Regions from separate parts of the Homo sapiens genome. Here region 2 is linked to region 1. Evidence: fine-mapped expression QTL. A gene starts in region 1. The other region holds a variant in brackets. All regions are shown on one strand. Distances are from middle to middle.

Region 1 (15,542 bases):
GCACAGAGAGATGCCTGTGCCATCAGAGAAGGGACTGGGGATCTGGTCCACTCTGGGCTCCTCAACCTGAGCGTGAGGCCTTGCTGTGCCATGAGCTCACCTGCCCCTTGGGAGTCCACTGTGACTGCAGTCCAGTGGGGTCAATGTCCACACTGATGCCGGAAAGAAGTCCTGGGAGATGCGGAGGGCATCCTGTAGCGGCAGGCAGTCTGGGTGGTCCACGGGTGTGAGCTTCAGCAGGTCCTGGGAAGGGATGAGGTGGTGAATTGGGGGCCGTGTTTTTGGGGTTCGATGAGAAGCTCCTGGGGGAATGCTCAGTCCTCACCAAAAGAATTCAAAGGGCAGGTACTCAGGGACCCACACTCGTGCCTGCAAAATCTGAACTGAAAATTAGAATCGGAGCAGCAGGGTTGATTCTAAAAGGGGCTGGGCTCGCTTTTCTCCCTGCTGCAGTCATTACTCGTTTCCCCTGGCAGAGGCAGCCGGGTGGAGGCTCATCTCTTCAAGCAGCTGGGAGAGACACCCCACTACCCACCCTGCAGCTGCTCCAAGGATACTGGAGACAAAAAGACAGGGGCTGGGGAAGCAAGATGTTCCTGCCTCGACCAAGACAGCAATTGGCCAAATGCCCTGACCCTGCTGGCATGGTTACCGCAGGCCAGGCAGGCATATTCAGGGCTCAGGATCCCTCTGCCTGACTTTTCAAATGGGCTGTTCTCAGTGACTCTGGCCCCCTCCCACCCTGGGCTCACTCTTGAGAAACTCCTAAGCCTTCTCTGGCCCTTCAGGGGCCTTAACGCTTATGTGTAGGACCAGGATGCTCTGAGTGACCTACTTGGTCAATGGGCTGCTACAGCAGAGCTGTTGGGGAAGGCAGAGAGAAAAAGGACAATGACAGACAAAGAACCACTCAACACCTCAGAGACCAGCTTTGTCCCCCACCCAACCGCCTTGCTCCCCACATGAACACCTGCTTGCAGGAAGCCAAAGTGGGTCCACAGCAGCCCACCTCTGTTCTCACTCCCAGGGCAGACAAAGCAGCAAGAACAGGTGACACACAGCCCCGGTGACCCTGTCCCCTCCCTACCCGTGCCTACTCTCCCATCAAACCTGGCTTCGAGGGCTGCCCGCCAGTCCTGTCCAGGCCTTATCTGGCTCAGAGCAGATGATCCCCTGCACCTCCCACCCTGAATCACACAGCTACACCCAGCACATGCTACAGAGGCCCAGCACACTCTGGATCACATCCAGAAACTCCACAATAGGGGAGGAGACATGCTGTTTCCCAGGAAGGGCAGCTCCCCAGACTTGGTCATTCTCAGACTCCTCCAGTCAAAGGCCGGGCACAGCCAGCTGGGATCGCCATGCTTCACTCTGACCCACACGACTGGCCTTGCCTCCTCTATGGGAAGAGACCCCTCAGCACAACCTCAAACCGAGACATAACAGGACAGGACAGGCTGGATGCTAGAGAGGCCAGCCAGATCTCCACACAAAGGCTCTGCTCTTAAGCAGGAGGTAGCCTGAGGGTCAAAGGTTTCCTGAAGCAACTCAGGTGAGACCTCACATACAAGAGCCCCAAAGAGGCTGCAAAAGCACCAGCTCAGCCAGCCAAGAACCCAGGTGTCACACCCTTCTCAGACCACTGAGGATCGCTGGGATTCAGCAGGAAAAGGTGGACATGACAGCTGATGGACCAATACTTCCCAACACCCTTCCAGCAAGCAGCTGTGCCCCGCCCCTCCCCACATGAGTCACTCAACTTCAGTCCTGCACATGGATGCCTTTGACCATGGGGTCATGGCTTTGGTCTCCTGCCATAGGGGCAGTGAGAGGAACAATGGTGGTCTGGGAAGGAGGATCCTAGACTGGGTGTCCCACAAGACCAGGCTGTGACAGATCCCAGAGCCAATACTCATGCGCCAGCCAGTCCCCAAACCCAACAGCTACCCAAAGCCCAGGATATAAATAGCCTGTGCACTGCTAAGCAGATACTTCAGGGAATGATCTGCTGGCTGTGAAGAAGATGCGGCCTCAGTAGGGTTCCACGAGCCTTCTGCCAGCAAAATCTTCTTTGCTTGGATGCCCATTAGAAACACTAAGGGAGCTCTTCAAAGGAACAGGCCAGACATGGTGGCTCACATCTGTCAACTCAGCATTGTGGGAGGCTGAGGCAGGAGGACAGCTTGAGGCTAGGACTTTTAAGACCAGCCTGGGTGGAACAGTGAGACCCCACCTCTACAAAAAACACAAAAATTAGCATGGCATGGTGGTGCATGCCCATAGTCCCAGCTACTTGAGAGGCAGAGAAGGGAGGATTCCTTGAGCCTGGGAGATCAAGGGTGCAGTGCCCATGATCATGCCACTGCACTATGGCCTGGGCAACACTGCAAAGTCCCGCTTTCAAAAAAGAAACAAACAAAACAAAACAAAACCAAAGATGCCTGTCTCCTGCCCCATCAAATAAATCCAAATCTCTGCAGGGTGACACAGGGTATTAACATTCTTAAATTTTGCCTTTGCTGAAGTAAACATATAGTAATGGCTGAAAACCACTGCGTTATGTAAATACACTTCCTATGACTTATTTGTAGTCCTTTTGTATCTAGCAATTTCTACAGACCCTCTCTGTGGGCTTCGGAAGCCAGAATGGGCAGGGCCAGGTGTGAGGTGTCCTAGGACACTGAGGGTAGAGCACAGCTCCCAGCTCAGGGGGACCCATTTCTGAGGCTAAGGCACCCACCTGGGGCTCAGCCTATCTTCAGAGGGAAAATCACACCTCAGAACACCAGACACCCAAAAGAAAGCTCCAGTTCGGCAGATACCTGCCAATAGACCCTGGAGTGGCTGCCCCAGGGAAAACTGCCATTGCACTGTCAGCTCCCTCCAGCCCTCTCTCAGGTCCCAGCAGGAGCAGATTTCTGACTAAGCTCAGAGGTCTCAACAAATGGCAGGTTGAACATCAGAGGAGTTATTAATAGGCCTATAGTTACCTCAAGACTCCACCTTACCAGGGCCAAAAATGAGTCCTGGGAGGGCAGCCAGAAAGAAAGTAGGGCAGAGAGGAAACACAGGGAGAGGGGCCCTGGGACCACGTCAGATATGGAGGGAACCAGGGGAACGAGAGCAGCCCTGATGATTGTACTCCCCACAGCCCCTGCATGCCTGTGAACCCTGAGAATTCAGGGTGAGGAGCTCACTCTTGCCTTTCACCTGTTCCTGGGCTCTGGCAGGCTGGCCTGCTTCCTGCCCCAGCCTCACCCACTCTCCGCACTCCTCGCCACTGATGTGGGCAGCTGATCTCTCCGGTTTGCTGGGCTCTCACCCTCTGCCCAATGGCACCAAGTTAACTTCTTCGCATGCTTTATTTTCTGTGATTAAAAAGGGAAACAATTCTCACTAACGCCATTTCTCAGAGGAGAAAACAGGCACAGGGATGTTCTATGACTTCCTCACGATCACCAAGCTACAAGGGGGAGCTGGGCTTTGAATGGAGGTCTACCCATGCTCCTAAAGTTGAGGCGTCCTCCAAGGAAAGGACAGCACCTATAAAAGCTCAATGAATGGGGCGGCAGTGTCACCACTAAGCCCGACCACGCTGCTACTCTGATATCCAACTTCCAGCCTCCAGAACAGGGAGAAATACAGTTCTGTTTTTGATGAGCTCCCCAGGCCGTTACAGCTCTTTCTTTGCTGTAACAGCCTGAACTAGCCCAGAAGTGCTATTCCATCATCTGTGTCATATTCCATCATTCAGAAGGGAGTCACTAACCCCTCAGTGCTGTCTCTGTGGACGCTGCCCACCCTAGGCTGAGATGAGGCACAGGGTCTGGGTCTAAATAAAATGGGAAGGCACTGGAAGGTGCAATGTCATAGGAGGAGGATGTCTGAATTTCATTTAATCTCAACCTCTACTGGTGCAGCATGAAAGATGAGGCCCAGAGCAAAAGTGTCTTTTCCCGAGATCACACTGTGGACCCCAGGCCCACTGGAGTTGCATTAGACGTTACCTCTCACCCCTTCTTGTATTTGTTCCATTTCTAAGTGTGTGCAATATCCACAGGGAACACCACACCATGAGTTTTTAAATATTTATCTCAAACATAACCTCATGAGTTCCCTAGGAAAGAGATGCTAGCATAACCCCCATTGTGCATGCTGGGGAGACCCCAAAACACCAAAGGAGTTCTCTAGGGTCTCACAACTGCTAAAATAAAGGCTGTTTGACCCAGCACTGTCTCCTCAAACCTGGGACCCTGGTTATATCCAGGTCTTCCCAAGGTGCTGAAGGGGCACACTTTTTCATAATGGTGACTACGTAAGGAGTTGACGGGGGAGGGTGAGCGGTCAGAAGCCCAGAGGGGCCTTTGAGTAGGACTTATGGAAAGGAGGAGCTTACAGGATGGAACCTACAAGATGTGACCTCACTTCCTTGCCGACAGACCCCCAACAGAACTTACAATTCTGGTAACTAGGCACCCACATTCTAGAGACAGCCCCATTTCCAGCTCACTTCGTAGGCGATGCTCGAGAGAACAACATGTTCTCCTGCTGTATCCCGACATGCTGCCGACCTCCTCGTCGCACAAGAGGCCAAAATGAGAGTCTTTCCCGAGAATATAGACATTGGTTCAACCCTCACCCTCGACGCCTCTGGCCCTTTGCCAGAAGGCACCCACAGGTAACACAGGGCCCAGGGCAGGCCCATCCAGGCTAGGCCTCAGCTGTGCCCATCAGGGCAGCCTCAGGCCCCTCCCCACTTGTTTGGGGGAAACAGGAGATGAGGGGCCCTCCCTGGATAGGAGCAGGTAGGTTGTCAGGTGTTTGGAGCCTGGTAGGTATGTCAGGTTCACAGCCCAGGCAGTGCCTGGCAGGATGGGAAGGTGAGTGTCAAGGACACAGTTTGTCTGCTCAGATCTGAATCCCAAGTCCTCAAGCTGTCATCTGCCGGAGACCTCAGGCTTCTCTGGCTGGAGGTCTATGCAGATGCTCCTATGTGCCAAATCCTGTTGGGGAAGGGGGTGCCAGGGATGAGTTCTAATGGGGGTGTCCCACTGTGGGGTCAGCCAGACAGGCCACTGACACCTCTTGGCCCGGCTCTCGGGCACTCTCTTTGCAGAGCTCCACACAACAGACCAAACAAGAGCTGTTGGATGGATTCAATTTCTCCATATTCTTCAAAGGGCACGTGCACCACACCACCAACCACGTCCAGTGCCGGTCTGCGGTGAGATTGGGCACAGAAGGGTCTCCACAGACAGGACTTGTGAAAACCAAGGTGGGCCCAGGACTCAGACACGAATATGGGGACTCCCTAAGCTCCATCCTAGGGCGTTCCCACTTGAGTGACCCACTGTCCTCTCCCAAAGGAATCTGGCTGCCATTAGTCCCCAGTGGCAACTTGGTTACAGGCAAAGTCCCTTTCACCTATCAGAGGAAGACCAGAGAAAATCCTTCTGTTTTCACTTTAGGCTATGCCAGGAGTATCTCGGCATGTTGCTTTAAGAATTGAGTACAATGGTAACATTGCAGCAAAATACTCACACTGTTATCATTTTAACTCCCCACCCTAAGTGGATCTCCGGCAACAGGCAGGCAGCTCCGCTGCCCTGCCAGACCTCCTCCAGGACTTAAAATCCAACACTTTTGCACAAACAAGGGGTGGGGGTGGGGGGGGTGCATTGATTACAACAAAAGAAGGTGAAGCGACTCTATGCATTAGTCTTTAAAGTGTCATCTCACAGAACTCATCCCTGCAGCCCCATCAGGCAGGAGTTGTACCCTCGCATGTCATTGTAACATTCCTTAAGGGAGGCCATTTTCCACAGCGGGTCAGCCTCTCAGTGCTGGTGGAGCCTGTCATGATAAAATTCCCTTTCGAGGCAGCCTTTCTACAAGGAGCATAATCCTATGCGTGTCCTAATAGGCTGGAGCAGTTTGCCAGGGCTGCCATAACACGGCACCCTGACTGAAGGGCTTAACCACAGAAATCTGGTTCCTCACAATTCTGGAGACTGGAAGTCCAACGTCAAACTGTCAGCCTGGGGTGGTTTCTCTGGGCCTCTCTCCTTGCCTTGGAGATGGCGGACTTCTATCTCAGTCAGCACAGGGTCTTCTCTTGAACTTCTCTGTGCGCTGACCCCCTCTCCTTGTAAGAACCCCAGGCATGTTAAATTAGGGGCCACCCTAATGAACTCACTTCACCTGAATTACCTCTTGGAGTACTCTGTGTCCAGACACAGTCACATTCTGAGTCTCTGGGGTTGAGAATAGAAACAGTTACATTTGGGGAAGGGGACACAATTCAACCCATAAAATAAACAAATCCCCTGCAGCAGACAGACACCCAGGAAAGGGATATCTGGGTGAAAGGATATGCAGATATCAACTTTCAACAGCTCTAGCTAGTTGACTTTCCAAAAGGGCTCCAGCTGGTCACACGGTCACCAGCAGCCTCTGAAGGTAGCTGCTTCTCTGAACGCAGCCTCCCCTGAATACTAACACGCTTTTAACTTTTCGCCAACCTGCTGTCTGTGTGGCAGAGAAAATCCTTGTTTCATTTCCACTTTCAAACATACATTTGCGTAACCTTTCACGGGTTCAATACCTGCCTGCGTTTTCCCCAAGTCGCCTCGCAGATCCTGGGCCTTGGGACGCGCTTCCTCCCACCCTGGAGTCTTCCGGCATTTTCCCCTTGGCCAGGGCTGGGATGGCCGTAGCTGTTTCTCCAGACTCACGTTCATGTTAAAGGAACAAAAACAATCATATACCTTTAAGTCAAAGAGTTCTTCTAGAGCGTATTGTCCTGTGTGCTGTTGCTGAAATGAGGAGGGGATGAGGCCTCCCCAGGCCTTGAGGACTTGCAGGGATGATGCTCTTCATGCAGGTTGCTGACACAGAGGGTGCTGTTGCCCCACAGCTGACAAACACCGGGACGATGCCTTGAAGGCAGGAATCGTTTTATCATTCTCCATCCTCACATGCAATGTTACTTTGAAAGCCTAGAACGCTTTTCACCATGGGCACCCAGGTTCTCCATATGCACAAGTCCCTGAAGGGTTGGTGCTTCTTGGTGTGAGTTCCAGATCCCGATCCTCTGGTGGTCCATGGTGTTACCACTGACTCCCATGTCCCTCCTTGTCCCCCTAGTATGAAAATGAGATCTGCAGGATGCTAACTTTCCAGCCCGGCACTGGGGAGAAGCTGTTGGGAGTCCCTGGTTCCAGCCTTTCTAACTAAACCCATCTCCTCCTATGCCACCTGCCTGGGCCCCTCCTGGGACTTTATCACTGTGCCACACTTTTTGGAACTACTGGTTAGAAGGTGAGTGTCCATCCCCCTCCAAGACACAGAGGTGCCTCTGTCCCCTACTGGCTCTGTCTTGAAGATGCACCTCTCGGAGCCTCGGTTGGCTCCTCTGGAACAGGGAGTAGTGAGAAGACGAACCTCACAGGGTTCTTGTAGGGACTCAATGATCTAAGACACAGCAAACAAAGGGGTCCCTAGAGCCTAAAACTCTGGAAAATCTGCTGGGGGTGCTGTGATTCATGTTTGTTACTTTTCTCTTCCCCCTCACTTGAAGCAGCTCTCAGCATTCTGCCTCAATGGCCTGTATCACTCACTGTTTGGAAAAACACATAGAAACCAAGTCTGCGATGGCACTGGTAAAGGATGTCTGAGATTCCTTCTGGCTGGTCTTTCTCCTTGACACAGACAGAAGAGGGGTCCCTTGGTGCTGAAAAAGGAGCCACAGGCCCACTCAGACATCTGGAGAGGCTCACTGGGGTTCTCCAAAGGTTGGGGTTCACTCATTCAACACATACATTCAAAACACCTCATTTGTGCATCGCTCTTCTTGGGGCTTGGCATAATTTCATAAACAAAGCAGATGACAATCCCCCGGCCTTGATTCTACTCAGAGTCAGGCACTCACAGTAGACAGAATAAACAAGTCATATCTACAGAATGTTACAGGTGAGACCCTCATGGCCTCCTCTACGTATGGTGGCATCCTCCCAGATTCTGACTAGAATGACGCAGCCCAGCAACAAATATAAACTGGGTGGATTTAGGGTTCTGAAGGGCCTTTTCACCCACAAAACATGGGGGAAAATATGTGGACTCTGGCTGGGGAGAGACTAAAGGAGCTCTGGGGCTCATACTTCTTATAATTCCCACGAGAAGGCTGACATCTGGGGACTTCCCCCACAAGAGGCAAATAGTGAGTTCTGTAAATGGAGACTTAGGTCCCCTGCAAAGCAGAGGGGAGGCTGGGGTCACAGCTGGCCACTGAGAGACCCATCCCCCTCAGCACCGTGGCTTCCCAGCTCTCCCTGTCCTCCTCCCCCCGACATCTGCCCCTTCCCTCCTAACCCCAGGACCAGGGGACCCAGATCTGGAGCTTTGATGAGGAAGCTGCTCACAAATCTGCCTGCAGCTGCAGTCTTGAGTGCCCAGGTGTACAGTGCTGTGCTCCAGGGCCTTTGGGAAGAGAATGTCTGTGGGACGCCAGGGCGCACGAGGGTCTGTACAGCCCTGCTGTATGGCCAGGTCTGCCCCTTCCAGGACAGCACTGATGGCTTACGGTAGGGTGGGGCTGTCCTCCACACTGGCAGCAACAGGCCAGGGACCCAGAACCACGCAGGGGTGCCCTGGAGGGTTGTGTGGGAGAAGGCCAGGCCTCTGACTCAGCTGTCTACTCCATCACCAGCACCATCACCTCCATTTTGTTCAACTGGCCCCCCGAAAACACTTCAGTTTACTATCAGCCCCCGCAACGGTCATCTTTCCGGATAAAGCTGGCCTTCAGGAACCTCTCCTGGCCTGGACTGGGCTTGGAGGACCATCAGGAAATTGTCCTAGGCCAGTTGGTGCTTCCGGAGCCCAACGAGGCCAAGCCAGATGGTGAGGGGGCTTGCAGTCTGCAAGACTTTCCGGGGGTGGTGTTTTGGGGCTACAATTCCCTTAAATTCCACCCGGTCATTTCTGTGCTTGGAAAACCCAGTGAAAAATGACTGGTGTGGTGACCTTTTCTCCTTTTCCAGATCCTGCTCCACGTCCTGGGCAACACGCATTAACAATGCCGGCCCTGGAGCCAGCACCACCACTGCTGGCGGACCTGGGGCCTGCTCTGGAGCCAGAGTCACCTGCAGCCCTGGGTCCACCAGGATATCTACATTCAGCACCAGGGCCAGCACCAGCACCAGGGGAAGGGCCCCCTCCAGGGACAGTGCTGGAGCCACAGTCAGCCCCAGAGTCCTCCTGTCCCTGTCGTGGGTCTGTAAAGAACCAACCCAGTGAGGAGCTGCCTGACATGACGACCTTCCCTCCCAGGCTGCTGGCAGAGCAGCTGACCCTCATGGATGCGGTGAGCAGCTGAGCTTTGCAGGCTGTGTCTCTGGCACCAGCTGTCTCAGACCAGCCTCTCCCTGAGGAGCAGCCAATGCCCTCGGTCCAATTTCAGCCCCACTTCTTACCAACCGTGGGATCTGGATGAGTTTCCTCACCCACAAGCCTTCCCTGTCTGCATGTGGACGGCAGAGATGGGACATCACCAGCGCCAGCTGCACAGAGTGACTGTGCAGACTGAGTGACAGGAGATGGACAGAAAGCAGGGCAGGGCAGGTGCTCACTGTGGGGCAGGCAGGGCCATGGGTCACTCACCCAGCTGCTCAGGAGCCTCACTACCCTCAGCACTTATTAGGTACCTGATGCATACTGGATTCTATGGTAGACACCCAAACAGAGCCCATAGTTGCAGCTGCCACAAGGAAAGTGCACCGGTACGGAGAGGAGTAGTAGAGGGCTGATTGGGATGGGAGGAAGACGAGGCCTCAGGATGGGCAGGCCTGAGCCACCTTCTAGTTCTTAGAGTGTGGATGGCCTGGGAGAAAATGTCACTCTCTCTTCCCACCCTTGTTGGGTTCTAGGCCATGATGCATTCAGGTCCCTCGGGGGCAGAAAACCAAACCCAGGGACTCCCACAAGTCTGGAGCCCATTTTAAAGCTTTCTGAGCTCCAGCTTGGTTCCTGCCAGAGACCGTGGATGACTGTGAGCTCAGTCCCTGCCTGGGACTGTGGGTGACTCTGAGCTGCAGTGTGCTGTGTCCGTGACACTCTCCTCCTCCCCCAAAGGAGCTGTTCAAGAAGGTGGTGCTCCACGAATGCTTGGGCTGCATCTGGGGCCAAGGACATCTGAAGGGGAATGAGCACATGGCACCCACAGTTCGTGCCACCATCGCACACTTCAACAGGCTCACCAACTGCATCACCACCTCCTGCCTCGGGGACCACAGCATGAGGGCCCGGGACAGGGCCAGGGTGGTGGAGCACTGGATCAAGGTGGCCAGGGTAAGCTATGGTTGGGCCTGGGGATTCCCTCTTTAAAAATGGGGAACTTCCTCTTCTCCTCCATCGGCTTTCAGGATCGGCATCTGTATCTCTGGCCTGGACCCTGCACATCCCCTAGGCTCTTCTTGCCAGAGCTTCACTCACCTTGACTCCCACGGCCCAGTGGTGGCTGCTCACTTCCGACCTGGGGTCTTCCTTGGGTTGAACTAAAATCCTCCTAGATGAGTGACATCCACTCGGCCCCAGGTCTGCCCTCCTGAGGCTCCCCAGGCCTCTGCTTCATCCAGGAGGGGAGATCTCAGCAGAGGGGGCTGAGGCTGTAGTGGGCCAAGCTCCAACTCTGAACCGCACAGCTCATTCTTCCCTCTCCAGGAGTGCCTAAGCCTCAACAACTTCTCCTCGGTGCACGTCATCGTCTCTGCTCTGTGCAGCAACCCAATAGGTCAGCTACACAAGACGTGGGCAGGAGTGTCCAGGTGAGGAGGGCTCTCTCCATGGCAGCATCAGGGTTGACCTAGGGACTCACAGGTCTCCCCCCATGTGCCCTCAATGACTCTGAAAGGTTCTTGGAGTCCAGGGACACTGGAGGCAGGGATGGGCCGGTGGCTGTGGTCACTAAGCTGCCCTGGACTCCTAGGCAAGGATTTCCAACTCAGGACTAAGGTTTTTTAACCATCAGGAACAGACTGGAGCCAACTGGAGGCTTTCAGGTGTTTGTACCCAGCAGTGGAACTCTGTGTCCAGCTGAAAGCTAACTGTAAACACGCAGTGGCTCATGTGAAGTGGAGATGGGGCCCAGGGGAGGAGCATGAGAGGTCCCACCCTGGTCCTCTGGAGCCCCTGTGATCAGAGGACTCCACTGAAAACTCTCACCCAGTAAGCTGGGATTCACTGGGTTTTCAAACAAAAGGGACTGGAACTCACAAATCTCCCCTGATTCCCAAATTTACCCTTCTTTCTTTCCTCTGCCCATAGCAAAAGCATGAAAGAGCTAAAAGAACTCTGCAAAAAAGACACTGCAGTGAAGAGGGACCTACTGATCAAGGTACAGTGGAGTCTGGGAGATGCAGGACAAGTGTTTAAGGGTCAGAGAAAAGAGTGAGTTTGGAAGGGCATTGGACCAGGTGTCGAGTGGTTATTTTGTTTGGTTTTGACTTACCTACTAAAAGTGGACTTGAAAAATTCCCTCCATGCCTACCTTGGGCCAACAGGAAGAGTGGTGTGTCGGTCCATGGGCACGTGGGGGCATGGGGGCAGGAGGCCCTGGAAATGGGATGTGGCAATGGCTGCTGGGCTGCTGGGCTGCTGAGCAGGGGTGATGAGCTGCAGCATTAGCAGGGCTCTGGCTCCCATGCTGGTCCATGCTGCTGGCATGGAGCTTCCTCCAGGCTGGAGGGTGATCATGGTAGGTGGGACTTCCTTCCTTCCTCAAACCGGCCAGCAATTCCTCAGGAAGCCAGGCCTCTGCTGCTGCTGCTGCTGCTGCTGCTGCTGCTGCTGCTGTCTGCAGCACACCTCCATGGGCAGGGGGCCTTGGCCTGCACTGGGGGAGAGGGGGAACAACAACAGAGGAAGCTCATGTGGCAGGGAGTCCAGTAACTGCCCAGCTTTGGGTACCAATGGGCATACTGGGGACAGACGTAGCTGTTTGCTGGGACTCCCCACTCTGCCCTTTGCAGACACCCAAAAACGGTCATGTCAGAGGATTCTCACCGGTTAGCAGCGACGCATGCTCATGACAAGTATCTGGGGGATTCATACATTGCTAGGGGATCCTCCCTGACCAGATCTCAGAATCGTCCATGCAAATGAGAAGGCAACATGTCACCCCACCCAGGACTCTGGAAAACCCTGCCATTGCAGTCAGAGATGGCGCATCAGGAGGCTACTTCCTCAGTGGAGAAAGAGAGAGTTCCGTGCACGGAACTCCCCTGGGGGATCATTGGCGAGGCGAAGCCTTTGGCATGGCTCAAACCCAGTTTGCGTGGCAGAGATTCCAGTGGGGCTGGGATAGGCAGGTGCCACTTAACCAGGTCTCCTAAAATGCCCTGTCCCTTTCCCATCACGACTGTATGTGGCTGGAGACCTAGACACTCAAAGACTCCAGAGAACACGACCCTGATGGGTGGTGGTGCTGGGATGTGAGCTGAAGGCAGCCGAGACGGAGCCTCCAGGAGCAGAAGGAGGCGTCCTCTCTTTGGGGGCCCTGGGGAGCCACTGCCCGCTCTGGGCCTCTGTTTCCTCATCTGGAAAATGAAGGGATGCTGAGCCTGTAGTGCAGGCCTCACAGGGTAGAAATGAAGTTCAAGAAAAGAAAGCAATTTGAGGGTGCTCGTGCCTGGTTCTTCCTCAGAGGGATGACGGTGAGAACAACGGCAACAGCTACAGGAAACTGAGCCCTCAGAGGCCCTGTGAGGTAGCTGTGGTTTGCATCACTCTTTACAGAAGAGGAAACAGTCTCAGGGAGGCCCGGCTGCAAGACTGGGTGACACACACAGGGAGTGTGGATCTGGGCCAGTGGTATGAGCACGGTGCCAGGTGGCTCCCGCCACTCCCTGGGGATCCAAGTGCGGGGTGGCTGGGGTGTAACTGGGGGAGAGGAGGAGAGCCTCACTGTCCCTGTCGCTGACACCTGGCAGGCGGGGAGCTTTAAGGTGGCCACCCAGGAGAGGAACCCCCAGAGAGTCCAGATGAGGCTGCGGAGGCAGAAGAAGGTGAGTGAGCCTGTGGCATGGACGGGCCGCAGGGGATCAGAGGACAGGGCTCCCTTCCCCGCCAGCTGGAGGCCTCCATATCAAGACAGCGGGGGCTTCCTCCCCAGCCCTGTCCTCCTGTGGCCACTGGGCCTGGAAAACCTTCATTTGAGAGACCAGAGGAAGGGTCTGGGAAAGCTGGACTCAGACTAGATGTGGGGAAGGGTAAAGCTGGGACCACAGGCCTTTGTGACTTGTTAAAATCCCACCATAGAGGTTAACAAGGAGTGCTTGCTAGACTTGGAGGTCAGCTGGGATACAGGAGGCAGAGAATTGGGAAAGGCAGCTGAGGGTCTTTGGCTGCTCCAACCGGGAGACCTGAGGAGGGGGCTCTGGGAGACAGGGGCTGATGGGATTTCATGGGACAGGACCTTGGGCAGGCACCTGAGGGCCAATACTCATCACCACTACCCCTCCCACCTCCCCACCCCTCCTTGGCACAGGGTGTGGTCCCCTTCCTGGGGGATTTTCTGACTGAGTTACAGAGGCTGGATTCGGCCATCCCGGACGACCTGGATGTGAGTGAGCCTGGGGCAGGGTGCTTGGGAACCAAGATCCTGAAGCTTGGGAGGAGAGGGTCCTGGACCGAGCCTTTAGATCTCAGCCCTTGGCAAACCTCCTCTCCTAAGAGCCTCACAGCTGCTCCTGTGGGTGGGGGTGTCAGGCCCATCTCATCACCTCTGAGTGATGGAGGCTCCATGGCAGCCACCAGGCCCTATTCCTGAGTGGTGAAGCTGCAGAGCTGCCTGACTGCAAAGCTGCTGAGGTGTGGGCTGAACTGGGCTCAGCTTCTCCCTAGGGTAGTCCCGTAATAGGAGGGTGAAATTGAGCCTCTCCAAGGGCAGGCAGTTCCAAGGTCACTGAGCGCTTTCTTTCTATGAGAGACCTCAGTTTCCCTGTCTGTCATCACAGAGGGTTGGGGCAGAAGGTCCCTGGGCCTCAGCTCCCATTCCCCCTGCTCTAGAGCCCGGAGCCTGAGGCAGGTCCAAGTCCTGTCGTGTGCACATCCCCTGACCCTGGTGGCCCTGGCAGTAGTGCAGCATGGGAAGGGGTGGGGTGGGGCTGGTTGTGGGCCAGGGGCCTTTCTGATGGACTCTGTCTGCCTTCCAGGGCAACACCAACAAGAGGAGCAAGGTGAGCAGCTGGGGCACTCACGTTGGATGAGGGTGGGGATGTGGACGTCACAGTCCACCCTGGGCAGGACACTCCCTGGCTCCATCCTCTACATCTTAGGCTTACTGGGAGTGTTTGACACACACAGGAGGAGGGGACCTATCCCAGGAGAAAATGGGAAAAGCACTGGAATCAAAGACCAATTCCTGCAGGAGGGGCTGTTTATATCCAACTCTGAGAACAGGCTGGGGGCGCTGCATGGGACCCCTTCAGAAAACTGCCCCAGGGACCAGCCCCTTCTCCCTGCCTGCCAAAGGCCCCCACAGCAACTTCCACCCAGGCCCTGTCAGCATCCTGTCCTCTGTCTCTAGGAGGTCCGAGTTCTGCAGGAAATGCAGCTGCTCCAAGTGGCTGCCATGAATTACAGGCTTCGGCCTCTTGAGAAATTTGTCACCTATTTCACAAGAATGGAGCAGCTCAGTGACAAAGAGAGGTGAGGGCCTAGCCCATGGGCTGAGGGTGGGAGAAGGCTCTCCATTTTTTTTTTTTAACATGGTCTGGCTCTGTCGCCCAGGCTGCACTGCAGTGTCACCATCTCTGTTCACTGCAACGTCTGCCTTCTGGGCTCAAGTCCTTCCTCAGCCTCCCAAGCAGCTGGGACTACCGCTGTACACCACCATGTCCGGTTGTTCTGCTGTTGTTGTTCTGGTACAGATGGGGTTTCACGATGATGTCCAGGATCGTCTCAAACTCCTGGCCTCAAGCAATCCACCCACCTCAGCCTCCCAAAGTACTGACGTTACAGGTGTGAGCCACCCCACCTGGCCTAGAGGAGGCTCTCCCGTGGCCAGCTGCAGAGAGCCTATGGCCATGCCTCCACGGCCAGCATCAAGCCCTGTTGCATGGGGACCACTGGGGACCCAGGATTCCAGCTGGGCAGGCACTGACAGGGGACCTGATGTGTGGCTCATGGTGGCCTCACAGCTGCTTCTCTGTCCTGCAGCTACAAGCTGTCCTGCCAGCTGGAGCCCGAAAACCCGTAGGCTGGCAACATCCTGCAGTGGCTGGGAACCCACCGGGATGCTGGCCAGAACACCGGCTCTGCACCATCCCTCACCCAGACCGTAGACACCAGGGAACCACATCTAGGAGGCTGGCAGCTCAGCTGCATCTTGCCCTGGATCCTCATCACCAACTGCTCCTGCTGGCCAGGATCAGGCCATGGGACTTTTGTGAGTCAGGCGGGAGACCATTTTATGTTTATTTTCTTTAGTGTATAAGTAAGGGTTTTTTCTTAACTTTCGTTAAAATAAAATTTTAAAAAAC
Region 2 (15,542 bases), 33 kb before region 1:
CTCATTCACAAATAATTTACCCATTTTAAGTTCACATTGTAGCGTACAACCATCACCAAAACCAATTTTAGAACATTTTCATCACCCCATAAAGAAATTCTGTACTCAAGGCCAGGCATTGTGGCTCAAGCCTATAATCCCAGCACTTTGGGAGGCCAAGAGGGAAGAATCACTTGAGGCTGGGAGTTTGAGACCAGCCTGAGCCACATAGTGAGACACCCCGTTTCTACAAAAAATTTTAAAAATTTGCAGGGAGTGGTGCACACCTGTGGTTCTAGCCACTCAGAAAGCTGAGGTGGGAGGATCATCTGCGTCCAGGAGTGTGGGCCTACAGTGAACTATTACTGAACCACTGCACTCCAGCCTAGGTGACAGAACAAGACCTCATCTCTAAAGACAATTTAAAAAGTCACAAAGTTAAAAATTAGGCCGGGTGCAGTGGCTTATGCCTCTAATCCTATCACTTTGGCAAGACAAGGCAGGCGGATCACCTGAGCTCAGGAGTTCGAGACCAGCCTGGCCAACAAGGCAAAACCCATCTCTACTGAAATAAATACTAAAATTCGCTGGATGTGGTGGCGCACACCTGTAATCCCAGCTACTTCGGAGGCTGAGGCACTGGAATTGCTTGAACCTGGGAGGCAGAGTTTGCAGTTAGCTGAGATCGTGCCACTGGACTCCAGACTAGGCGACAGAGTGAGACCCTATCTCAAAAGAAAGAAAAAAAAAATTAAAGAAACCCTGAACTCAGTAGCAGACACTCCCTGTTTCTCCTAGCAGCCCCGCCCCACCTACAGGGTGACAATTTGTGTGCCCTTGTTTCCCCCCAGGTCTGTGAACCAGGGGTCACAGGGAGTTGAGGAAGAGGAGGGGTCTCTGACAACACATCAGAGACTCCTCAGCAGCTCCCCATCCAGGTCTGCAAGGATCAAATCCAGTCCCAAAGACACCAGGTGAAAGCCTGGGATGAGGCCAATATGAGGCAGCCTTTGGCTCTTTTGCCAGATGGGCTAGATGGGGACGCGGAGCATGGGATGGGAGACGTGGGGCACAGGCAGGGTAGCAGGTGAGTCTGGCTGCTCCAGGCACAGCCAAGCTAGTGCCTTAGCTTCCTGCCCTTAAATCCGCAAAGGGTGAGTTTTCTATTTTATTTTTGAGACAAGGGTCTCGCTCTGTCGCCCAGGCTGGCAGTGGCTCAATCTTAGCTCACTGCAACCTCTGCTTCCTGGGTTCAAGCAGTTGTCCTGCCTCAGTCTCCTGAGTAGATTGGATTACAGGCGCCCACCACCACACCTGCCTAATTTTTGTATTTTTAGTAAAGATAAAGAGTTTCACCATGTTGGCCAGGCTGGTCTCGAACTCCTGACCCACCTGCCTCGGCCTCCCAAAGTGCTGGGATTACAGGCATGAACCCCTGCACCGGCCCCATGAAGGGTGAGTTTTCCTTGCCAGCTGAGCTAGACTGCCATGGGAATATTGCCGTCTGCAGGAAATGCCCCACTCCTGGCTGCTCTGCCTCGACCCTGGAGTTTTGGGATGCCCCGGTCCCCCAGGGCCTGGCACCCCCACCCTGTTCACCCCTGCCACCTAGGTCTGCTGTTCAGGCTGCCATCACACCTCTCTCTGCCCCCTGGGTGTCCCTTGGGTACTCACACCTCTGCCCAATCCCCCATAGTCCTGATGAGCTCCCAGAGGAGGCCCGAGAGCGTGAAGCAGGTCTGCCACATCCACAACCTGAGGTCCGTGACCACCTGTGCGAAAAGGAGGTAGTGCTCAGGGAAACTGACATATTACTTCCCTGGGGAGCCAGGACCACTGCTGAGCTCTGACTGCCCCCTGGGCTCCCCAAGGTTGGGACAGCATGGAGTTGGGGGGTGGAGGGGCTAGAGGCACCTGGTCATTCCAGCTCCATCCCATGTGCGCCTTCCCTGCGGTTTCACCAATGATCACAGAATGATGGTGCTAATGCTCAAAGTGGCCCCGCGCAAGGTGGAGAGGGGAGGCCAGGAAGGCAGTGGGGCTGCAGGGTTCGTACCTTCAGGTGGCACTTGTTGGCTGTGTGGATGTCCTCATCATTGGGGTTGAGTTTGAAGGTGCCCTGGGCCCACTCCTCAACCACCTATAGCACGTAGCAGCAATACCAGGGGTCAGGTGAGCAGGCATCAGCAGCCGAGAGCCCCTGCCCTGATCCCACCTTATTCCTGATGACTGACTGTCCCTGTCCAGGAGCTGAGTCCTGGAAGTGCACCCTGGGAGGGGGCATCTCGAGCCCAGCACACCTTTACCCATAAGCCATGTGGGCCACAGGGATCATTAAAGGAGAGAAGAGGTCAAGGCACACAGTTAAACAGCACTTGAGTATATAATTAGTTCAACGTAAAACCATCCATCTCGGCCTTGGCGAGGAGCCCTGCCTTCTCCATGCCCCGGCTGTAGGCTCTGCTGCCTTGAATATCCACCTCCCACAGGTGCTGGTCGTAGGCTGGATGTGTTGAACTTCTCCATGATGGGGTCCACTGCACCCACTCTGGCCAGGAGAGCAGAACAATTAGTCTCTCCTCCACCATCCAGAACAGTGCCTCTTGCAGAGTCTCCTTGGGAAACTTACCAAGTCTGATGGTAGCAGGGGCATGGGACCATCCTAACTGGGAAGACAAAAAGGCTGAGACCTTCCCAGAGTCACCTTGGGAGTGAGCATGGGAACATGGCTGAACACCAAGACAGAGCCAGGCTGGACTGCAGTAGTGCAACCTCGGCTCACTGCAACCTCCGCCTCCCGGGTTCGTGAGATTCTCCTGCCTCAGCCTCCCGAGTAGCTGGTATTACAGACACGCACCACCACACCTGGCTAATTTTTGGATCATTAGTACAGACAGGGTTTGACCATGTTGGCCAGGCTGGTCTTGAACTCCTGACCTCAGGTGATCCTCCCATCTCGGCCTCTGAAAGTGCTGGGATTATGGGCATGAGCCACTGCGTCTGGCCTTGAAGTTGGGGTCTTTCCCACCACATGGCACCACCCCAAGGAGATGGTGGCAGGGCCCGAGGCACCCCGGGACCAGAGCAGAGCTTCTGGAACCTTTCCTGCCACTGACCAAGGTGCCAGGTGCCATCCTAATTGATGACACAACTCTCTGGGGTAGGCACCAATACAATCCCACTATGAAGAGGGGGAAACTGAGGCACAGGGAGGCATGCAGCCTGCCCTTACCCGGGGAGGGAGAGCCAGGGCTGCAGCCCAGCAGTTTAAAGTCAGAACCCATGCTCTTCACCCCTGTTCCACCACGGCCTCTGAGCTTGGCTCTGGTGTCCTGAACTTTTGCTGCAGGGACAGGCAAGGAGGCACTGACGGTCTCCACCAAGCTTAAGTGCCCTGCAACTCTCTCCCTCACAGCTTGGAGTCAGACTAAGAGACTAAGATCCCAATTCCTACTGCTCCCTTGGCTCTGAAGAGCACTCTGACACCCCCCATTGTCACTGGCCTTCTAGGAGGTCACTGGGTGACCCTTACTCCCCAGGAGCCAAGGGTAGAGAGATGGTACGTAGGCATCTACATTTTGTTCTTATTTTTGAGACACGGAGTCTCACTTGGTCGCCCAGGCTGGAGTGCAGTGGTGCGATCTCGGCTCACTGCAACCTCCGTGTCCCAGGTTCAAGCCGATTCTCCTGCCTCAGCCTCCCAAGTAGCTAGAATTACAGGTATGTGCCATCACACCTGGTTGAGTTTTGTATTTTTAGTAGAGACGGGATTTCACCATGTTGGCCAGACTGGTCTTGAACTCCTGGCCTCAAGTGATCCACACACCTCAGCCTCCAAAGTGCTGGGATTACAGGCATGAGCCACCGAGCCCAGCCCATTTTGTTATTTAAAAAAAATTTTAATTCTTTTTTAGAGACAGGGTCTCACTCTGTTACCCAGGCTGGAGTGCAGTGGTGCCATCACAGTTTACTGTGGCCTCAAACTCCTGGGCTCAACCAATCCTCCTGTCTCAGCTTCCCCAGTAGTTCGGACTACAAGCATGTGCCACCACACCTATACATTTTTGAAAAATTTTGTAGGGCTGGGTGCGGTGGCTCACACCTGTAATCCCAGAACTTTGGGAGGCCGAGACAGGTGGATCACGAGGTCAGGAGATCGAGACCATCCTGGCTAACATGGTGAAATCCTGTCTCTACTAAAAATACAAAAATTAGCTGGGCATGGTGGTGCTCGCCTGTAGTCCCAGCTACTCAGGAGGCTTGGCAGGAGAATCGCTTGAACCCGGGAGGCAGAGGTTGCAGTGAGCCAAGATCGTGCCACTGCACTCCAGCCTGGGTGACAGAAGGAGACTCTGTCTAGGAAAAACAAAAATTTTGCAGAAAATATGTTGAGACAGGATCTATGTTGCCCAGGCTGGTCTTGAACTCCTGGGCTCAAGCAATCCTTCTGCTTCCGAAAGTGCTGGGATTATAGGCATAAGCCAAGGCGCTGGCCACATCTATGTTTTGAAAGCGGGCAGAGGCCAGGGCATGGGACAGATCGGGGAAGGGTACAGGGCACCTGGGAAGTAGTCCTAGTGCCCAGGACTGGGGGGGAGGGTGGGGTGGAGGTGGGCACGTCACTTGACTGACATCCTTTTTGTGGAAGGGACTCTACAATGGCCAATAGGGACATATGTCCTCCTCTGTCCCCCTGCAATGCCCCAGACCTCTGTTAACCACCTGGCCTGGGGCCTATTATAAAAACTCAGGGTTGGGAGGCCCAGATGGGTGGATCCCTTGAGGTCAGGAGTTTGAGACCAGCCCGGCCAACATGGGGAAACCCTGTCTTTACTGAAAATACAAAAATTAGCCAGGCGCAGTGGCGGGCAGCTATAGTCCCAGCTACTTGAAAGTCTGAAGCAGGAGATTCACCTGAACCCTGGAGGTGGAGGTTGCAGTGAACAGAGATGGCACCATTGCACTCCAGCCTGGGTGACAGAGCAAGACATCTTCTGAAAAATAATACAGTACCTATGTGATAGCCTTGTTTTGAGCATTCAATCAGGTAACATTTGCAAATTGCATGCATAACATGGTGCCTGGTGCTCAGGAAGGAATTGGGAAATGCCAGCAGTTACTAAGGGAGGGCAGGCAGGGGACAGGACATGTTTCAGCTCCACTCCTGGTTCTTGTGTGCACCCAGAGACCTCTACCGTGCTCTGGCCCTGAGCTGTGAACTGACCCCTCCATGCCCAACAGCCCCAGCTGCCAAAGGACTCTGCCCTGCAGAGGGAGCCTCCGCCCCCACCCCGTCTTTTGAGCTGGTCCTGCCCCTTACCCCACAAGCTGCCCCACCAAGCCTAGATCTCCAGCAAAGCACTAGGTGGGGCCTGGATCTTTCTGATCACTGGGGCCAGCCAGTCAGAATTGGAGCCAGCCTGCCCCTCAGCTGGGAGCCTGGCAGTACCTCCCCCAGCGGGGTCCTGGGCCACCCTGCCTGTATTATTAGTAATAAAAACTGCTAAATATGCAAGGCTGCAGCCAAACCAATTAGTGCCAACCTACAGGAAGGCCTGGGGCAGGCTGAGGTCACCTGGAGTGCTGGGCTGGTCCAACGGCAGACCACTCTGCTCTAGGACCAAGCGCCTATCCTTACTGGCAGGCATAATAGGATGCCACTGGGAGATCAGAGTGAGGTGCCTCCCCTTGGGCACTGAGGAGAAGGGAGGCCCAGTGTGGTAGCAGAAGGTGCTGCTCCGAGCCAGGACACTTCTGGGCCAGAATGGTCTCTTCAGGGCCAGGGGATGGGGCACTGAGTTGGGCTGGGTTGAATGAGCAACAGTCAAGGTCGAATGTACACGGGAAATATCAATTTTGGTTTTGGGGTTTGTTTTTGTTTGTTTGTGTTGGTTTGTTTTGAGACAGAGTCTGGCTGTTGCCCAGGCTGGAGTGCAGTGGCAAGATCTTCACTCACTACAACCTCCACCTCCCAGGTTCAAGCAATTCTCCTGCCTCAACCTCCCGAGTAGCTGGGATTACAAGCGCTTGCCACCACGCCAGGATAATTTTTCTATTTTTAGTAGAGATGTGGTTTCACCATGTTGGCCAGGCTGGTCTCAAACTTCTGACCTCGTGATCCACCCATCTCAGCCTCCCAAAGGTGCCGGAATTACAGGCATGAGCCACTGCACCCAGCCCGCCTGGCCCATTTTGTTTTTCTTTTCTTTTCTTTTTTTTTGAGATGAAGTTTTGCTCTTGTCACCCAGGCTGGAGTGCCATGGCATGATCTTGGCTCACTGTAACCTCCACCTCCCGGGTTCAAGTGGTTCTCCTGCCTCAGCCTACATAGTAGCTAGGATTACAGGCACCCACCACCACCCCCAGCCAATTTTTGTATTTTTAGTAGAGATGGGGTTTTACCATGTTGGCCAGGCTGGTCTGGAGCTCCTGACCTCAGGTGATCCGCCTGCCTTGGCCTCCCAAAGTGCTGAGATTACAGGTGTGAGCCACCCCTCCCGGCCCCTTGCCTGGCCCAATTTTTAATATATTACAGGATTGTGGCAACCTTGTGTTGAGCTAGTGTAGTATTGGTGCTATTTTTCCAACAGCACGTGCTCACTTGGTGTCTTTGTTCAACATTTCGGTAATTCTTATTGCATTTCAATAATTCTTATCGCCTCCCAAATTGCTAGGATTACAGGCGTGAGCCACGGCTCCTGGCTGTTTTTTTGTTTTTGTTTTGTTTTCTTTTGTTTTTTTTGAGATGAGATGGAGTCTCACTCTGTCTCCAGGCTGGAATGCAGTGGCACGATCTCGGCTCACGCAAACTCTGCCTCCCGGGTTGAAGCGATTCTTCTGCCTCAGCCTCCCGAGCAGCTGGGACTACAGGGGTGAGCCACCACGTCCGGCCTGGCTGTTTCTTTGTCCTCCTCCTCCTCTTCCTCCTCCGTTTCTTTTTCCTCCTCCTGTTTCTTTTTCCTCCTCCATTTCTTTTTCCTCCTCCTCCTCCTCCATTTCATTTTCCTCCTGCTCCTCCTCTTCCATTTCTTTTCCCTCCTCCTCCTGCTCCATTTCTTTTCCCTCCTCCTCCTCCACCTCCTCCTCCTCCAACTCCTTCTGCTCCGTTTCTTTTTCCTCCTCCTTTTTTT[T/TC]CCCCTCCTCCGCTTCCTCCTCCTCCTCGTAGGCACGAGACACCATGACTGGCCTGGTTGTTTCCTTTTCCTCCTCCTGCTCCTCCTCCACCTCCCAAATTGCTGAGATTACAGGCATGAGCCACTGCACCTAGCTGTTTCTTCTTCTTTTTTCTCCTCTTCCTCTTCCTCCTCCTCCATTTTATTTTATTTTTAGATATGGAGTCTCACTCTGTTGCCCAGACTGGAGTGCAGTGGCCTCACTGCAACCTTCACTTGCCTGGATTCAAGCAATTCTGCCTCAGCCTAACAAGTATCTGGAATTACAGGCAGCAGCCACCATGCCCAGATAATTTTTGTATTTTTAGTAGAGACGGGATTTCACCATGTTGGCCAGGCTGGTCTCCAACTCCTGACCTCGTGATCCGCCCACCTCGGCTTCCCAAAGTGCTGGGATAACAGGCCTGACCCACTGCGCCCAGCCCGCCTGGCCCGTTTCTTTTGTTTTCTTTTTTTTTTTCTTAAAACAGAGTTTTGCTCTTGTTGCCCAGGCTGGAGTGCAAAGGTGCGATCTTCCCTCACCGCAACCTCCACCTCCCGGGTTCAAGCGATTCTCATGCCTTAGCCTTCCGAGTAACTGGGATTACAGGCACTTGCCACCACGCCTGCCTAATTTTTGTACTTTTAGTAGAGACAAGGTTTCTCCATGTTGGCCAGGCTGGTCTTGAACTCCTGACCTCAAGTGATCCGCCCTCCTCGGCCTCCCAAAGTTCTGGGATTACAGGCGTGGGTCACTGCGCTGGGCCTACAGCTCATTTCTTACCACATAAAGTTTTGCGCCTCTCCACAAAACTGCCATCAGGGATGTCCCCAGAAACCATTCATCCCAGGCGCCACGCAGAGAAGAGCTGCTTGTTCTCCTTTTCCCTTTACCTCTTCCATCTCACCTCATCTTGTTCATTCATTCATCCCTTTTCCATTCTCACTTTTAAGCGTTAACCTTTCAAAACCCTGTTTTCCCCTATAAGTAATGTCTTGTAACTCCCGCAATCACCATATCCTTCTCCAACCCACCAAACTGCCATCCTGAGTTTATGGTAAGTCCATAAACTAAGAAGAAATGGGAAACATTCATTGCAAACCTGGCAGCCCCTCATCCACCCAACGTGACAGCACAGATGTTCTTGTCTTTGAAGACCCCCTTTTTTTTTTTTTTAAGACAGGTCTCACTCTGTCACCCTGGCTCAAGTGCAGTGGTGTAATCATAGCTCACTGCAGCCCCCAACTCCTGTGCTCAGGCGATCTGCCTGCCTCAGCCACCCAAGCAGCTGGAACTACAGGAACACACCACCACACCTAGCTAATTTGCTTACTTTTTGTAGAGAAGGGGTCTTGCTATGCTTAGCAGACTGGTCTCGAACTCCTGGCCTCAAATGATCCTCCCACCTTGGCCTCCCAAAGTGCTGGGATTACAGGCATGAGTCACCATGCCCAGTCTAAAGACTTTTAAATGCTGCCATATTCAAGATGTGTTGAAACTCACCTGTATTCGATGAGCCTGCTTTTTGCAAGTGAGTAATATAAAACAGACTGAAATACCTTAAGCTTCTCAGGCTTTGTACCTTCCTAAAGTAAATCCATGAGGTCCAGTTTTTCCTTCCTCCTTGGCTATGAAATAGACAAGAAAAAGGCAAGCTAGCCATTTACATCTCACTATAGCAGACTCTCCTGTTTGCTTTTTGACTGTATTTGGGAAGCAGGGGCCTGACTGCTTTCCTACTTACTAAGCACAACTCACTTTTCCTAGGAAATCCTCAACGCAACCTGCATGGATTAAACCAGCTCCTCGCTTTGTTTCCAATATTCTTACAATCAAAGTGTCCAGAATGGGCAAGGCAACCTGAAAAAATGAGGACGGGTACATTATCCTATGAGCCAAACTGCCGCTTACACTGGTTAGTCATGAAATCGGCAAAATTCCAGATGAGCTCTCCAACCACGTATTTTCTGAGTTTTTGATCCAGACCCAGATGGTACTGCTCTAGCAGACTTTTCTGGTAGTCTTCACTGAACATCAGAGGTGGATCCTGGGATTCAAGGCAAAGAGAATTTAAGAGTCAGAACTGGCAGAATTGTAAATGTTAGATAAAAAATAAAGATCCACTTGATGGTGACCAAAATATCTGTCCTCGCAGGGGGCTATAGTGACTGCAGGACTCACTGATGCTAGGGTAAAGACAGCCAGGGAATGATGTAACCCAGAGTTAAAAAGGAGGTTTAAAAAAACAACATATTAATTAGTAACTGCTTTATTTATAAATGTAATCTGATATTCACTTTTTCTTACTTTTCCGTCTCTATCTGCTGGTACAGTCTTAAGGCTGAACTACGTTAGAAGTAAAAATATGACTTTGGGCCAGGTGCACTGGCTCATGCCTGTCATCCCAGCACTTTGGGAAACTGAAGTGGGAGGACTGCTTGAGCCTAGGAGTTCAAGACCAGCCTGGGAAACATAGCAAGACCCCATCTCTACAAAAAGTACAAAAATTAGCCAAGCATGGTGGAACACAACTGTGCTCCCAGCTACTTGGGAGGCTGAGGTGGGAGGACTGCTTGAGCCCTGGAGGTCGAAGCTGCAGCGAGCTGTGTTTCCACCACGGCACTCCAGCCTGGGTGACAGAGTGAGACCCTATCTTAAATAAATAAATAAATGTATGTATGTAAAATTAAATTAAACCAGGCTGGGCATGGCAGCTCAGGTCTGCAATCCCAGCACTTTGGGAGGTCGAGGCAGGAGGATCACTTGAGCCCAGAAGTTCAAGACCACCCTAGACAACCAGTGAGACCCAGTCTCTACAAAAAGTCTAAATATTAGCCACGTGTGGTGGCACATGCCTGCGGTTCCAGCTACTTGCGGGGCTGAGGAGGGAGGATCGTTTGAGCCCAGGAGGTTGAGCAGTGAGCTGTGATAACGCCACTGCACTCCAGCCTGGGCAACACAGTGAGGCTGTCTCAAAAAAAAATTTTTTTTTAATTAAACTAAATAAAGTTATCCTAGTCATATGTCAAGACCTCAATAGCCACATGGTCCCAAAACCTCTGGATAAAACCTAATTCCCAAAACCTGTGGATATTACCTTATACAACACAAGAGTGACTAATACCTTAAGTGGAAAAGTATGTTAAAGATTTTTTTTTTTTTTTTGAGACAGAGTCTCACTCTGTTGCCCAGGCTGGAGTGCAATGGCGTGGTCTGAGCTCACTGCAACCTCCGCCTCCCAGGTTCCAGTGATTCTTGTGCCTCAGTCTCCTGAGACTACAGGTGTTCGCCACCATGCCCAGCTAATTTTTTTTGTACTTTTAGTAGGGATGAGGTTTCACCGTGTTGTTCAGGCTAGCCTCGAATTCCTGGCCTCAAGTGATCTGCCTGCCTTGGCCTCCCAAAGTGCTGGGATCACAGGTGTGAGCTACCCTGCCCGGCCTTTTTTGCATTTTTTTTTTTTTTTTTTTGAGAGTGAGTCTTGCTCTATCACCCAGGCCGGAGTGTGTGGCACAATCTCGGCTCACTGCAATCTCCACCTCCCAGGTTGAAGCGATTCTCCTGCCTCAGCCTCCTGAGTAGCTAGGATACAGGCATGCGCCACCATGCCCAGTTAATTTTTGTATTTTTAGTAGAGATGGTGTTTTACTGTGTTGGCCAGGCTGGTCTCCAACTCCTGACCTCAAGTGATCCACCCTCCTTAGCCTCCCAAAGTGCTGGGATTACAGGCATGAGCCACCGCACCCGGCCTAAAGTATGTTAAAGATTTTGAGAGGAGGAGATGATCCTGGATTATCTAGATGTGCCCTGAATGTGACCACAGTGTCCTTGTAAGACAGACACACAGAGGAGAGGACACACAGCAGAGGAGAAACCAGTATGACCATGGAGACAGAGACTGGAGTGAGGCAGCCACAAGCCAATGAATGCTGGCAGCCACAGGAAGTGGGAAGAGACTGTGAAAATTGTCAAAATAGAGCTGCGGCCACACACAGTGGCTCACACCTGTAGTCCCAGCACTTTGGGAGGCCGAGGTGGGTGGATCACCTGAGGTCAGGAGTTCGAGACCAGCCTGACTAACATGGTGAAACCCCATCTCTACAAAAATACAAAAGTTATCTGGGCATGATGGCGGGTGCCTGTAATCCCAGCTACTGGGGAGGCTGAGGCGGGAGAATTGCTTGAACCCAGGAGGCGGAGGTTGCAGTGAGCCGAGATTCCGCCACTGCACTCCAGCCTGTGCAACAGAGCAAGACTCCATCTCAAAACAAAACAAAACAAAACAACAAAAAACAACTCTGAAAAATAGAGCCAGGGAAAGGCCATGAAGAGAGGACTCTCGTGCACAAGTGCCCCATTCTCGGCTGGGTGTGGTGGCTCATGCCTGTAATCCCAGCACTTTGGGAGGCTGAGGTGAGAGGATTGAGGTAAGAGGATTGCTTCAGTCCAGGAGGCTGAGGCTACAGTGAGCCTTGACAGTGCAACTGCACTCCAGCCCAGGTGATAGAGCAAGACCCTACCTCAAAAACACAACTCACAACATTACACAAAGGCCATCACAACCTTACACAAAAAATACTTCTGCAAAGACATCTGCCCAGGAGTGGCCTGTCCAGCCTCAGACTAGTGTCACCCTTATCACTGATCCTAGTAGCCAAGGATGATAATTCCAAAACAGTTATATACCAAAGCTAAGCTATGAGGAAGCAAACACATAAGAATGATATAATGGGCCGGGCGCAGTGGCTCATGCCTGTAATCCCAGAACTTTGGGAGGCTGAGGCGGGTGGATCACCTAAGGTCAGGAGTTTGAGACCAGTCTGGAGAACATGGTGAAACCCCGTCTCTACCAATAACACAAAAATCAGCCAGGCATGGTAGTCCCAGCTACTCGGGAGGCTGAAGCAGGAGAACCTCTTGAACTGGGAGGTGGAGGTTGCAGTGAGCCAAGACTGCACCATTGCACCCCACTCCAGCCTGAAAGACAAGAGCAAAACTCTATCTCAAAAAAAAAAAAAAAAAAGGGTCTGGGAGCCAAGATGGCCGAATAGGAACAGCTCCAGTCTACAGCTCCCAGCATGAGTGACGCAGAAGACAGTGATTTCTGCATTTCCAACTGAGGTACCGGGTTCATCTCACTGGGGAGTGCCAGACAGTGGGTGCAGGACAGTGGGTGCAGGACAGTGGGTGCAGCGCACTGTGCGTGAGCTGAAGCAGGGCGAGGCATCGCCTCACCTGGGAAGTGCAAGCGGTCAGGGAATTCCCTTTCTTAGTCAAAGAAAGGGGTGACAGGCGGCACCTGGAAAATCGGGTCACTCCCACCCAATACTGTGCTTTTCCAACGGGCTTAACAAACGGCACACCAGGAGATTATATCCCGCACATGGCTCGGAGGGTCCTACGCCCACGGAGCCTCGCTCATTGCTAGCACAGCAGTCTGAGATCAAACTGCAAGGCGGCAGCGAGGCTGGGGGAGAGGCACCCACCATTGCTGAGGCTTGAGTAGGTAAACAAAGCAGCCGGGAAGCTCGAACTGGGTGAGGCCCACCACAGCTCAAGGAGGCCTACCTGCCTCTGTAGGCTCCACCTCTTGGGGCAGGGCACAGACAAACAAAAGGCAGCAGTAACCTCTGCAGACTTAAATGTCCCTGTCTGACAGCTCTGAAGAGAGTAGTGGTTCTTCCAGCACGCAGCTTCAGATCTGAGGATGGGCAAACTGCCTCAAGTGGGTCTGTGACCCCCGAGTAGCCTAACTGAGAGGCACCCCCAGTAGGGGCAGACTGACACTTCACACAGCCGGGTACTCCTCTGAGACAAAACTTCCAGCAGAATGATCAGGCAGCAGCATTTGCGGTTCACCAATATCCGCTGTTCTGCAGCGACTGCTGCTGATACCCAGGCAAACAGGGTCTGGAGTGGACCTCCAGCAAACTCCAACAGACCTGCAGCTGAGGGTCCTGACTGTTAGAAGGAAAACTAACAAACAGAAAGGACATCCACGCCAAAAACCCATCTGTACGTCACCATCATCAAAGACCAAAGGTAGATAAAACCACAAAGATGGGGAAAAAACAGAGCAGAAAAACTGGAAACTCTAAAAATCAGAGTGCCTCTCCTCCTCCAAAGGAATGCAGCTCCTCACCAGCAATGGAACAAAGCTGGACAGAGAATGACTTTGACGAGTTGAGAGAAGAAGGCTTCAGAAGATCAAACTACTCGGAGCTAAAGGAGGAAGTTCGAACCAATGGCAAAGAAGTTAAAAACCTTGAAAAAAAATTAGACGAATGGCTAACTAGAATAACCAATGCAGAGAAGTCCTTAAAGGACCTGATGGAGCCGAAAACCACGGCACAAGAACTACGTGACGAATGCACAAGCCTCAGTAGCCGATGCGATCTACTGGAAGAAAAGGTATCAGTGATGGAAGATGAAATGAATGAAATGAAGTGAGAAGTTTAGAGAAAAAAGAATAAAAAGAAAGGAACAAAGCCTCCAAGAAATATGGGACTATGTGAAAAGACCAAATCTATGTCTGATTGGTGTACCTGAAAGTGACAGGGAGAATGGAACCAAGTTGGAAAACACTCTGCAGGATATTATCCAGGAGAACTTCCCCAATGTAGCAAGGCAGGCCAACATTCAAATTCAGGAAATACAGAGAACGCCACAAAGATACTCCTCAAGAAGAGCAACTCCAATACACATAATTGTCAGATTCACCAAAGTTGAAATGAAGGAAAAAATGTTAAGGGCAGCCAGAGAGAAAGGTCGGGTTACCCACAAAGGGAAGCCCGTCAGACTAACAGCTGATCTCTCAGCAGAAACCGTACAAGCCAGAAGAGAGTGGGGGCCAATATTCAACATTCTTAAAGGAAAGAATTTTCAACCCAGAATTTCATATCCAGCCAAACTAAGCTTCATAAGTGAAGGAGAAATAAAATACTTTACAGACAAGCAAATGCTGAAAGATTTTGTCACCACCAGGCCTGCCCTAAAAGAGCTCCTGAAGGAAGCACTAAACATGGAAAGGAACAACTGGTACCAGCCACTGCAAAAGCATGCCAAATTGTAAAGACCATCGAGGCTAGGAAGAAAGTGCATCAACTAGCGAGCAAAATAACCAGCTAACATCATAATGACAGGATCAAATTCACACATAACAATGTTAACCTTAAATGTAAATGCACTAAATGCTCCGATTAAAAGACACAGACTGGCAAATTGGATAGAGTCAGGACCCATCAGTGTGCTGTATTCAGGAAACCCATCTCACGTGCAGAGACACACACAGGCTCAAAATAAAGGGATGGAGGAAGATCTACCAAGCAAATGGAAAACAAAAAAAGGCAGGGGTTGCAATCCTAGTCTCTGATAAAACAGACTTTAAACGAACAAAGATCAAAAGAGACAAAGAAGGCCATTACATAATGGTAAAGGGATCAATTCAACAAGAAGAGCTAACTATCCTAAATATATATACACCCAATACAGGAGTACCCAGATTCATAAAGCAAGTCCTTAGTGACCTACAAAGAGACTTAGATTCCCACACAATAATAATGGGAGACTTTAACACCCCACTGTCAACACTAGACAGATCAACGAGACAGAAAGTTAACAAGGATATCCAGGAATTGAACTCAGCTCTGCACCAAGCGGACCTAATAGACATCTACAGAATTCTCCACCCCAAATCAACAGACTATACATTCTTTTCAGCACCACACCACACCTACTCCAAAATTGACCACATAGTTGGAAGTAAAGCACTCCTCAGCAAATGTAAAAGAACAGAAGTTATAACAAACTGTCTCTCAGACCACAGTGAATCGAACTAGAACTCAGGATTAAGAAACTCACTCAAAACCACTCAACTACATGGAAACTGAACAACCTGCTCTTGAATGACTACTGGGTACATAACAAAATGAAGGCAGAAATAAAGATGTTCTTTGAAACCAACGAGAACAAGGACACAACATACCAGAATCTCTGGGACACGTTCAAAGCAGTGTGTAGAGGGAAATTTATAGCACTAAATGCCCACAAGAGAAAGCAGGAAAGATCTAAAATTGACACCCTAACATCACAATTAAAAGAACTAGAGAAGCAAGAGCAAACAGATTCAAAAGCTAGCAGAAGGCAAGAAATAACTAAGATCAGAGCAGAACTGAAGGAAATAGAGACACAAAAAACCCTTCAAAAAAAAATCAATGAATCCAGGAGCTGGTTTTTTGAAAAGATCAACAAAATTGATAGACCACTAGCAAGACTAATAAAGAAGAAAACAGGGAAGAATCAAATAGACGCAATAAAAAATGATACAGGGGATATCACCACCGATCCCACAGAAATACAAACTACCATCAGAGAATACTATAAATGCCTCTACGCAAAAAAAAACTAGAAAATCT

Evidence for each region. PIP is the estimated chance that this variant, and not a neighbour inherited with it, causes the effect. A credible set is the group of variants that fine-mapping cannot tell apart.
Region 2: its variant is the best candidate, but not a certain one, in a credible set for the expression of RGL4 in whole blood (INTERVAL, PIP 0.53).

The regions. Positions count from the first base shown.
Region 1 is chr22:23,683,625-23,699,166 of GRCh38, forward strand. It overlaps RGL4 (ral guanine nucleotide dissociation stimulator like 4), which reads left to right and starts at 7,389. Exons shown (of 11, transcript NM_153615.2): 1 at 7,389-8,585; 2 at 8,711-8,904; 3 at 9,045-9,367; 4 at 10,135-10,350; 5 at 10,723-10,826; 6 at 11,326-11,395; 7 at 12,990-13,064; 8 at 13,547-13,621; 9 at 14,214-14,237; 10 at 14,588-14,709; 11 at 15,220-15,542. The coding sequence starts at 8,407. The coding sequence ends at 15,259. It also overlaps the pseudogene GUSBP11. RefSeq lists a silencer at 1,538-1,832 and enhancers at 11,796-12,296, 13,031-13,110.
Region 2 is chr22:23,650,826-23,666,367 of GRCh38, forward strand. It overlaps the pseudogene GUSBP11 and the pseudogene ASLP1. Among named protein-coding and RNA genes, the nearest start is that of DRICH1, 26 kb to the left of the region's middle. The variant T/TC (reference allele first, on the strand shown) is at 7,110.